Regions from separate parts of the Homo sapiens genome. Here region 1 is linked to region 2. Evidence: fine-mapped expression QTL. A gene starts in region 2. The other region holds a variant in brackets. All regions are shown on one strand. Distances are between the middles of the regions.

Region 1 (5,235 bases), 37 kb before region 2:
TTTTCCATTTCCTTCGTGATACGTACTCATTTGCCCAATAAATCTTTTTCAAAGCATGAAAATTCATAGGGGGATCTTTTTGGCCCAAATTTCTTGTAAGAGATGCCTACAGGGAGGTAAATGTTCATTTATAGCTTATCACCTGTTTTACAGAGAGGTTGAGAGGTGGAAAGAAATGGAGGGAAGGAAGAGGTAGGAGTGAAGTTGGCATTTTTCATTGTTGATCCAATGTAGCACACAGACGTTGGTGTGAGCAGATGCATGTGGAAAGGAGGAGGAGAAATTTGGGTCAGGAAGGAACCTGAGCTATTTTTTTCTCTCAGTGGTGGGTGAGTAGCTGTTTTAAGGAAAAAGAAAGTGGAAAAAAGGAAATAAGAGAGTGAATGCCTAATATATAAATACTCAGAACTTCTGCACCCTCTGATAAGTAGGAACCCCAAGAAACAAGAAGCTTTGGGGGTGAACGGGGTGTCGTTCATTCAATAAACATCTGAGCACCTATTCTGTGCCAGGCACTGTTGCAGGGTCTGGGAACCGAGCAATGAACAAACCAAAGTCTTTTACCATATGGAACCACCACTCCTAATTTCTGGGCATGATCAGAGAATGGGATGAAATGGAGAGTGAAGGGGAGGCCGCCTCAACTTCAGTGGTCAGAGAGGGCCACTCTAAGAAGGTAACATTTGAGCAGAGACCCACTTGGCAAAGAGAAGACAGTTACATAGGTATCTAAGGAAGGCATTCTCCTTTCATCAAAGTGTTCACTGATGCTTTGCTTAGAAGAATTGACAACACCCAAGAGTCCATCCTTAGAAGACTGGCTGAATGTATCAGGATTCAACTGGGTGAGAAATGAGTTGAATATTTGAATATGGTAGGAGTTCTGAATTACAGAATTAAATGAAAACAAACAGAACAATCGATGACAGCATATATGTGTACTCTCATTTGTGTTTTCTTTAAGTGAGGGGGCTTCAGGGGCTTTCACTCAGCAGCTATTTACCTACTTTCACAGAAACATTTCAATAAGTTAGCAACCTATATAGAAGTAGTAGTGCTCTGCTAATTATCAGTTGTGTATATAAAGCGTATCAGTCAGTTTTGCTGTGTAACAAACCACTCCAAAACTTAGTGACTTAAAATAACAAGCATTATTAGCTCATGAATGTGGCCACAGGGGCTAAGTTAAACTGGATAGTTCTGGCCTCAGCTGACTTCATGTGTTCAACTGTGGTCAGCTGTGGGCTGCCTGGTCCAGAATAACCTTGTCCGAGATGACTCGCCTCTCCTCCTTGGGCATCTCATCCTCCAGCAAGCCAGCTCAAGCCAGTGCACATGACTGAGCAGGGATTTGAGAGGAAAAGAGAGCATAGAATTCTTTTGAGGTGTGTGTGTGTATGCATTGATCCTCAGCCTCACTTCTCCCATACATAGAATGAACCTTGTTATTATTACTCATTCCATAATAACAATGCCAGATGCCTATCAGCCGCAAACTATGAGATATGCACTGTTGTTATTGGATAAGTTGTGATAAGTAAATTTTTTTTTTTTTGAGACAGAGTTTTGCTGTTGATGCCCAGGCTGGAGTGCAATGGCACAATCTTGGCTCACTGCAACCTCTGTCTCCCGGGTTCAAGAGATTCTCCTGCCTCAGCCTCCCAAGTAGCTGGAATTACAGGCACCCACCACCATGCCAGCTTTTTTTTGTGTGTGTGTGTTTAGTAGAGACGGGGTTTTGCCATGTTGGCCAGGCTGCTCTCGAACTTCTGACCTTGGCTGATCCGCCCACCTCGGCCTCCCAAAGTGTTGGGATTACAGGCTTGAGCCACCGTGCCCGGCCAGTAAATAATATTTTATTGATGCTGAGTTGTTAGTTATTTACATTTTAATATTTCTCACATTGAAATATGTCTTACAATTGTTCATATCTTTGGCTTTTCTTCTTTTTTCCTTACAAAGTTCTTAACTTCTTTATTTTATAAGCAATACATCTGAAAGGAAAATCATCACATTCATGGCATATCATAGTCAGGAAGAAAAATTAGGTTGCATCCTGAGGTTGACCAAACATACCAGATTCACCCTGTTAAGTCCTGGTCCCCAAATAAAACATTGAGCACTTCCTGTAAGCCGGACTCCTTAGCAAAAAAAAAAAAAAAAAAAAAAAAAAAAAAATATATATATATATATATATAAAATGATTACCACATCCAGAAAGTTTGTGAACTCTCTTCAAATATCAGCATGGCAAAACTCA[C/CAT]ATATATATATATATAAAATATATATAATATATATTATATATTATATAAATAATATATATTATATAATATATAACATAAATATATATATAATATAATATAAATATAAATATCTATCTATCTATCTATCTGAGTTTTGCCATGCTGAGATTTGAAGAGAGTTCACAAACTTTCTGGATGTGGTAATCATTTAATATTATTACCGCTTTTTTTTTTTATCATGAAAGAACAAATGTAATGTTGGTAAGCCTGGTAATCTTGTGATTTTTTTTCTTTTAAATACCTTTTGTGTTTTTAACTTGAGAAGACTTTATAGACATATCTATGTGCCCACAGAAAATATCGACATTGTTTTATGTGTTGCTGGGTTTTCACGTCATTCATGTCAGACTGCATCTGTAGATTTGCAACTTGCTTCCCCCATCCTCCCATGAAATGATGTGTCTTGGAGACCTTTTCATATCCATCCACGATGATCTATTTTGTTCTGTAAAATGAGTATAATAACAACACTCAACCAACATGATCTTGGTGAGGACACATTAAGCTCTCAATAAATGTTACTTGATTTATAATGATTCTGTCTTTGGAATCATTTTTCTAGCGAGACTGCAGAAAAGCCCTGTGGGCTGGAAGTGGCTAGGAGAACCTGTTTCTCTAAGCAGACTTGACAGCTCGCTGCCCTTGTATGATTTACCCCATACACCCCCAAGTGATTGTATCCTTCTAGGTTTTAAATAACAAGGTGAGTTTTCCCATTTCAATCATACTTCTTCCCCTTGCAATCCCACCTTAAATAAATGGAAAATTTTTTAGTAGTAGTGAAACAAGAAGGTCTTTGGGGACATATCGCTCTGGGTTTAATCCTGGATATGCCATTTACAAGCTGACCTGCCCCAGGGTGTCCGAGGCTCCCAAATGATCACAGTTTGGAGATGGCCACGTACACTAGATACATCCACACAATGTGATTAATTCCCTGCAGTTGCCAAAAAGCATGAAATAGATTCCTCTCCTTGTGGGATGGTCCCTACTGATAGGATTCCCTGCTTGGTGCCACAGAACCCTGCCTTATGGGCCACAGCAGATGTACCAGAGGATAGAACAACAGGTCACTGGCCCATGAAGTGGTCTTATGGCAAAGTCTTACTCAACAGGGGTCTGTGATCTTGGATGTCTCGATCTGGCAGATCATAGACTTCATCCTGCCAACTGACGAGCACAGTTCAGTTCAGGTCACGTCACTCATTTTCCTTTTAATTTAATGAATTACCATCATTAAAACATTGAGATAGTTTACATTTACAAACACCGTTTTTCATTCATTCGACTGTTTCAAAACAACATTCATGGGCCATCTGGTATGTGCCAAGACACGTTCCAGGTTCTGGAGGCTCAGAGGTAAATTAGAAACACACAGCCCCTACCATCATGGGTCTGTACCATTTTAGAAACAAGGCAGACAGTAAGCAAAAAGAAATATTCATAAAGTAATGAGCTCCAGCTTATTTTGAGAAATTGAAATATCAAAACTCACTGGGCCAGCAACTCCATTAGAGGACATAATAGAAAGATAGTGAAGAGCCATATCACAGTGGTTCTAGGTAAACAAAGAGCTCAAAGTCAGAGCCTCAAAGCTCTCTGGCCCTTGAAAAGTTGTGAATATCATCCTATTAGGCATACAGGATATGCTTCAGGCATACTGGGTGTCACCTGCAATGTCCAGCACGTAGTGAGTGCTTTATGAATGTCTGTCTCTTGAGTGATTGTGGAAGCTGTGCCTTTTCTGGTGACCAGATCATTGGGAAGAACACTTATTCATCCATTCAACAATTCCAGAGAGATTTGATTTTGTGAAGGACTCACTCTTGCAGAGGGTGTACAATTCAAAACCCACATAATTCAAGACTAACCCTGACAAAAAGATGGTGGGTGTGTCTATTCACCAGCTAAAGCGACACTAAAATAACAGTCACAGTTTACAATGTATGTGATTGGTTGTATTTGGAAGCATGAGAAACTGTAGCCATGCTGCATTTCTGTAAATCTACAATAACATCCCTCTTGTGACCCCAGCTTGCAACATAAAAAATAGCGCTTTGCCGGCTGGGCGCCGTGGCTTACGCCTATAATCCCAGCACTTTGGGAGGCCGAGGCGGGCGCATCACGAGGTCAGGAGATCGAGAACATCCTGGCTAAGACGGTGAAAACCCGTCTTTACTAAAAATACAAAAAAGAAAAAAAAAATTAGCCGGGCGTGGTGGCGGGTGCCTGTAGTCCCAGCTACTCGGGAGGCTAAGGAAGGAGAATGGCGTGAACCCGCGAGGCGGAGTTTGCAGTGAGCCGAGATCGCGCCACTGCACTCCAGCCTGGGCGACTGAGCGAGACTCCATCTCAAAAAAAAAAAAAAAAAAAAAAAAAAAAAAAAAAAAACCTAGGGCTTTGCCAATAACTCGCATATATTTATATAGCCCTCTCCTCCCCACTCCACTGCTTCTCCCAACCCAGAATAACCAACAGCCTGAATCCGGGGCATACCTTTCTCTGAATTTCCTTTCTGTACTTTCCCCCTCTTCAGAGCTTTTTGGGAAACTTCATGTTAATAATTTCAATCCGGTTCAGCCAGGCCCTGCTGTCCTAAGAACAAAAGCTGTCACTTAAAAATGACTTTGCAGTTGTTGCCCTCATCTGTTTTCATCCCATGATCTCTACAGCCCAGAGATCTTTGTTTCCAGGAAACAGCAGGGCTTTCCCCAGGCGGATGGGTTCTTTGAAGGAGGGGGAAAAAAAAAAGTCTTCTCCAGCTATTCTGTGTAGAGCGTCAGCACCACCGAACGCTAATGCTTGAATGGTTTAGAACTGCGGACAGCTCACGCCAGACAGATTCAGCACCACGGACAGCCCCCAAGGCAGCTCGTGATGTGAATGGTTCAGCACCGCAGACAGCTCAAGCCTCGCCGGACAGCCCTGCTGGAAG
Region 2 (5,235 bases):
CATAAATGTACTTGGGGGCCTATCAGGAGTCCTCCATTAGCATAAATGTACTTGGGGGCCTACCAGGAGTCCTCCATTAGCATAAATGTACTTGGGGGCCTATCAGGAGTCCTCCATTAGCATAAATGTACTTGGGGGCCTATCAGGAGTCCTCCATTAGCATAAATGTACTTGGGGGTCTACCAGGAGTCCTCCATTAGCATAAATGTACTTGGGGGCCTATCAGGAGTCCTCCATTAGCATAAATGTACTTGGGGGCCTATCAGGAGTCCTCCATTAGCATAAATGTACTTGGGGGCCTACCAGGAGTCCTCCATTAGCATAAATGTACTTGGGGGCCTATCAGGAGTCCTCCATTAGCATAAATGTACTTGGGGGCCTATCAGGAGTCCTCCATTAGCATAAATGTACTTGGGGGCCTATCAGGAGTCCTCCATTAGCATAAATGTACTTGGGGGCCTACCAGGAGTCCTCCATTAGCATAAATGTACTTGGGGGCCTATCAGGAGTCCTCCATTAGCATAAATGTACTTGGGGGCCTATCAGGAGTCCTCCATTAGCATAAATGTACTTGGGGGCCTATCAGGAGTCCTCCATTAGCATAAACACAGGTGTGGTTGCAGGGGGCTTATTAAGAGTTGCAGAAGACACTCCTTCTACCCCTGTCACTCAGGAAATTCCAAGGGTTTTAGGGGCTCTGGTACCAGGAGCTGGGGATAAAGATTAAACATATATTTCTTATTATATCACAAGATCACAGGAAGACACATGCATTACATCACACTCTGACACACACAGGGTCATACACAATCATACCTGCCCAGACACACACAGACATGCAGAGACACCCAAACCCATATCCAGGGACACACAGTCGCCCTCCTAACCCCCATGCAAGGAGGCAGGTGGGAAGCCATCACCTGCAGCCACACTCACACATGCACACAGGGTCCCGGGCACACGTAGCTACACACACACCCAGCCCCACACGTAGCTCCCTGTGTGAAGAGGTGCACAGAGACGCACAAGGTCACACATGCCACCTGCTCCACACAGGCCGGCCATTACTGGGACACACCCACAGGGGATGGCTGGACACATGTGCAGTCACACTCGGTGGATAGAGCTCCAGCATAGCCAAAGCCCACATGTGCAGCGTCTCCATCATGTGCAGATGCACACACTTCAGACAGCACGGCACTCTACAGGCTCGCACAGCCAGGTCACCCATCATTGTGCTGGCAGGCACACGGGCCGAGCCAGCCTACACGGCGGCACACCCAGACATGCACACGTGGGGTCACACACCTCACATCCAGGAGAACTTTCAGACTTGCCCAAAGGCAGCCACACGTGTATGTGACATGCTGTGATATGCAGACACCGCTTCACATGAACGAGCACATAACACACCGATAAAGTGTTACATGCCTTTACCTGCAGTCACCTGCCTGGGCTGGCACCACTGAGTGAGCAGGTGCAGACACAGTGACACTCGGGGACGGGCTCACAGGCAGTCACACACCTGCAAGGCCTGGCACCGCCGAGTGAGCAGGTACAGACACAGTGATGGGCTGGCACCGCCAAGTGAGCAGGGGCAGACGCTGTGACACTCAGGGACGGGCTCACAGGCAGTCACACACCTGCACCTGCTGGTACCGTCGAGTGAGCAGGTGCAGACGCTGTGACACTCAGGGACAGGCTCACAGCCAGTCACACACCTGCACGGCCTGGCACCGCCAAGTGAGCAGGTACAGACACAGTGACGGGCTGGCACCGCCGAGTAAGCAGGTGCAGATGCAGTGACAGGCTCACAGGCAGTCACACACCTGCACCTGCTGGTACCGTCGAGTGACCAGGTGCAGACGCTGTGTTACTCAGGGACGGGCTCACAGGCAGTCACACACCTATACGGGCTGACACCGCTAAGTGAACAGGTGCAGACACAATGGCACTCGGGGACGGGCTCACACGCGGTCACACACCTGCAGGAACACGCGCACACTACACACCGTTGCTCTCGCCTCCCGGTATCACCTTCGAACGCGCTGGCCGGCCCCCTCCTAGCCTGGTGCAGTCGGCTCCGCTTCTACTCAGTCTCGGGTCCTCCTGGGCCAACGCAGACCCTGGTGCCTCCTTCCTTAGACGAGCTAAGGTCAAGACTTCTGCTGCTGCGGAGGAGCCCGCGCACCAGGCCGGGGTGGACTGCGCCTGCGCATCGGGCCCGCCTGGTTCTTAGGAACTACGACTCCCAGGGGGCGCTGCGCGCTCGCCGGCACCGCGACTAAAGCTTGCAAAGCCTGGGTCATCGAAACTACAACTCCCAGAAGGCTAAGCGTCTGCACACGCTAGGTCCGCAGGGCGCTGACCCCTGGGGGCCCGAGGAGCGCCGGGCTGCTGCCCCGAGCCCCGCCCACTACAGCCTCAGTGCATGGCGGTGGGCGCTTCCAGTAACTCAGGGGTGGGACTTTTTTCTTGCTCAGGGGATGAGGCCGAGCCCACAGGCTTAGAAAGAAGGAACTTGAGTCCGGGCACCTGTCATCCCAGCGCTTAGGGAGGCCGAGGCGGGTGGATCACCTGAGGTCAGGAGTTCGAGACCAGCCTGGCCAATATGGCGAAACCCCCGTCTCTACTAAAAATACAAAAATTAGCCGAGCATGGTGGCATGCACTTCCAGCTACTTGGAAGGCTGAGGCGGGAGAATGGCTTGAACCTGGGAGGCGAGGGTTGCAGTGAGCTGAGATCGCACCACTGCACTCCAGCCTGGGTGACAGAGCGAGACTTCGTCTCAAAAAAAAAGAAGAAGAAAGAAGGAAGCTGAGGTTCAGACAGGCTAAGTCCCTACTGCAGGCTGCGGAATCTAAAAAGGTAGGTGCCAGGGTTTGCAACCCACACTTTTATTTTGGTCTCAGGTAGCTGATGTCATTCCAGTCTATGGCAAAGAAGGTGGCAAATCCATTAACATAGATGAAGAATTTCATTTTACTTTTTAGTTTTATTTATTTATTTATTTTTATTATGTATCATGCTTTTAATACAAACTTTAAAAAATCTGGAACAATAGAAACTGTACAGATTTGATCAATCTTTTTGTTTTGTTTTTAAACTAAAATCTCTAAACACACCAATGTCCTATTCCAAAATATTGCACAACATTCTGAATACAAAACCCTTGATTGTATTCCTCCTTCACTGAAGAAAAAACTTCATGACCCTGCTCCCCGGGCTCCTCTCCAGGCTTGCGTCAATGCCCCCTTCCCATCCCTAGGGAGAAAACTAGAGAATCTATAACTCACTGCATTGAGAAAAAGACATCATTCTGGACTAACAGTTTCCATTCTTCAGAAGATAATCCACCTTTTGATTTGTTCCTGGGAAACAGGGATAGATAGAGGATGGGGAAAGGGGAGAAAAGGTTTTATTTCTCCTCTTTTTTTTTTAAAGTTTGTTTTTCCTGAAAAAATATGTTTCTCTCATCTTTTTAAGAAAAAATCTTGAAAAGAAAAAAATTGTTTTTACGTTAGAAATATACATATATTATATATACCTCTTACATTTTACAAATGTAGCAAATTATTCAATACAAACGGACACCAAAAAATGTAAAAAATAAAAAAAAGTTTTCCTAAGAACCAGGTAAATTAGTGCAGATTTCTGTTTTTGTTTTCTTAAAAAAAATAAAATTGAAGCAAAAGTGCCTAGATTTGAGACAAGACAGACTGAACTGGGCCCAAGAGCCCAGCACTGGAGTCATGCTCCTGAACACACATTTTTCTTCGTATTTCAAAAGACACAAAGGGGTTGGTCTCCCCCCCTCTCCCTACATGTGAGAAACAAGCAGACCTGGTGTGGGTGGGTGCCTGTGTGTGTGGATGGGAGGAGGGATAGAAGGGGATGTAAGGCAGCATCCAACCTTTCCCAGAGAGAAGCTATCTGCTGGGCCTGTCACCTGTGTGGGAGCCGAGGATGAGGGAAAGGGTGGCCCAGACTGGGCTGGCCCCTGAGAAGTCTAGGGGAACAGATGGTGCTGGGCTGAGAAGCCAGGACATTGCCTGCCGGGGGAGGTAGAGCTGGTGCCTACTGCAGGGAGAGGAGGCTGGCAGTGCCGGCCTGGGCTGGACCCACTGCCATAGCAGTTGCCTACTTGGGGTCCCTGGGTAGGATGGAGTGGGTGGGGTGCCAGGGGCTTTGGTGCTTTCTGGTGATGGGACCCTGATGCCAAGTGCCCACTTTGCAAAGATGAAAAAGTTCATGACCCTGCTCCCTTGGCTCCTGTCCATGCTTGCCTGGCCTCCTGGGGTTGGAGGAACAAGCTCTCTCCTGGCAGAGGCAGGAGAGAGTTTTATTTTTTAGAAACAGTTTCGCTTTGTTGCACAGGCTGGAGTGCAGTGGTACAATCACGGCTCACTGCATCCTCGACCTCCCCAACTCTAGTGATCCTCCCATCTTAGCCTCCTGAGTAGCTGAGATTGCAGGCATGTGCCACCACACTGGCTAACTTTTTTTTAACTTTTATTTTTTGTAGAGATGAGGTGTCGCTATGTTGCCCTGGCTAGTCTTGAACTCCAATCCTTCCACCTCGGCCTTAAATAATTTTAATAGTTGACATGCACATGGCATTTACTATTGGCCGGCATTATTTTAAGGTGCCTGCTCTGAAGGAATTCTGTTAGCCTTCCTAAATTATTCCCTTGGCCATTGGAAACATAGGCATGAGATCATTTTTAGATAATTGGAAAAGCAGAGAAATCTGTGAAGATAGAATGGGAAAAAAAATGCATTTCACTAAACCAACATGCCATTGATTGTGAGATTCCACATTACTTTATGTAGCCCCACGGCTGCCCTTAAACCATGACACATGCTTTATTTACAGTTCATATTTTACTTATTCGTAGACCTCAAGAGGCATTCTGTGCTTCCCTCTTCCTTCTGGAAGCTTCATGAGAAGGGACATTTTCCTCAAAGGATGGACAACAGAAACAACTCAAATATTCATTTCCTTTAAATATGGTTTTTAAGACAATTTTCTTTAGAAAGCCACATTTACCTGTTGGGGGTTGATTTATGCTCACCCCCCTCCCAAATATATGTTGGAATGCTAACCCCCTATTCCTCAGAATGTGACTTTATTTGGAGACAGGTTCTTTACAGAGGTAATAAAGTTAAAATGAGTAAATAGGGTGGGCCATAACCCAAAATGACAGCTGTCCTTATAAAAAGGGTGCATTTGCA

Direction of the effects. Positions count from the first base shown, and alleles are read on the strand shown. Sizes are in standard deviations (SD) of each study's normalised expression.
For the expression in subcutaneous fat of the gene that starts at base 2,194 in region 2, allele C in region 1 goes with a lower level than allele CAT (large effect, 1.5 SD a copy in FUSION).

The links. PIP is the estimated chance that this variant, and not a neighbour inherited with it, causes the effect.
Region 1: its variant is fine-mapped to the expression of ZNF835 in subcutaneous fat (FUSION, PIP 0.95).

The regions. Positions count from the first base shown.
Region 1 is chr19:56,632,979-56,638,213 of GRCh38, forward strand. The region is part of intron 2 of ZNF71-SMIM17 (ZNF71-SMIM17 readthrough (NMD candidate)); the gene reads left to right. Among named protein-coding and RNA genes, the nearest start is that of SMIM17, 7.6 kb to the right of the region's middle. RefSeq lists silencers at 5,023-5,235, 5,115-5,235. The variant C/CAT (reference allele first, on the strand shown) is at 2,261.
Region 2 is chr19:56,669,564-56,674,798 of GRCh38, forward strand. ZNF835 (zinc finger protein 835) reads right to left here and starts at 2,194. Exons shown (of 2, transcript NM_001005850.3): 1 at 2,013-2,194. It overlaps LOC105372473 (a long non-coding RNA gene), which reads left to right and starts at 2,416. Exons shown (of 4, transcript XR_936110.4): 1 at 2,416-2,868.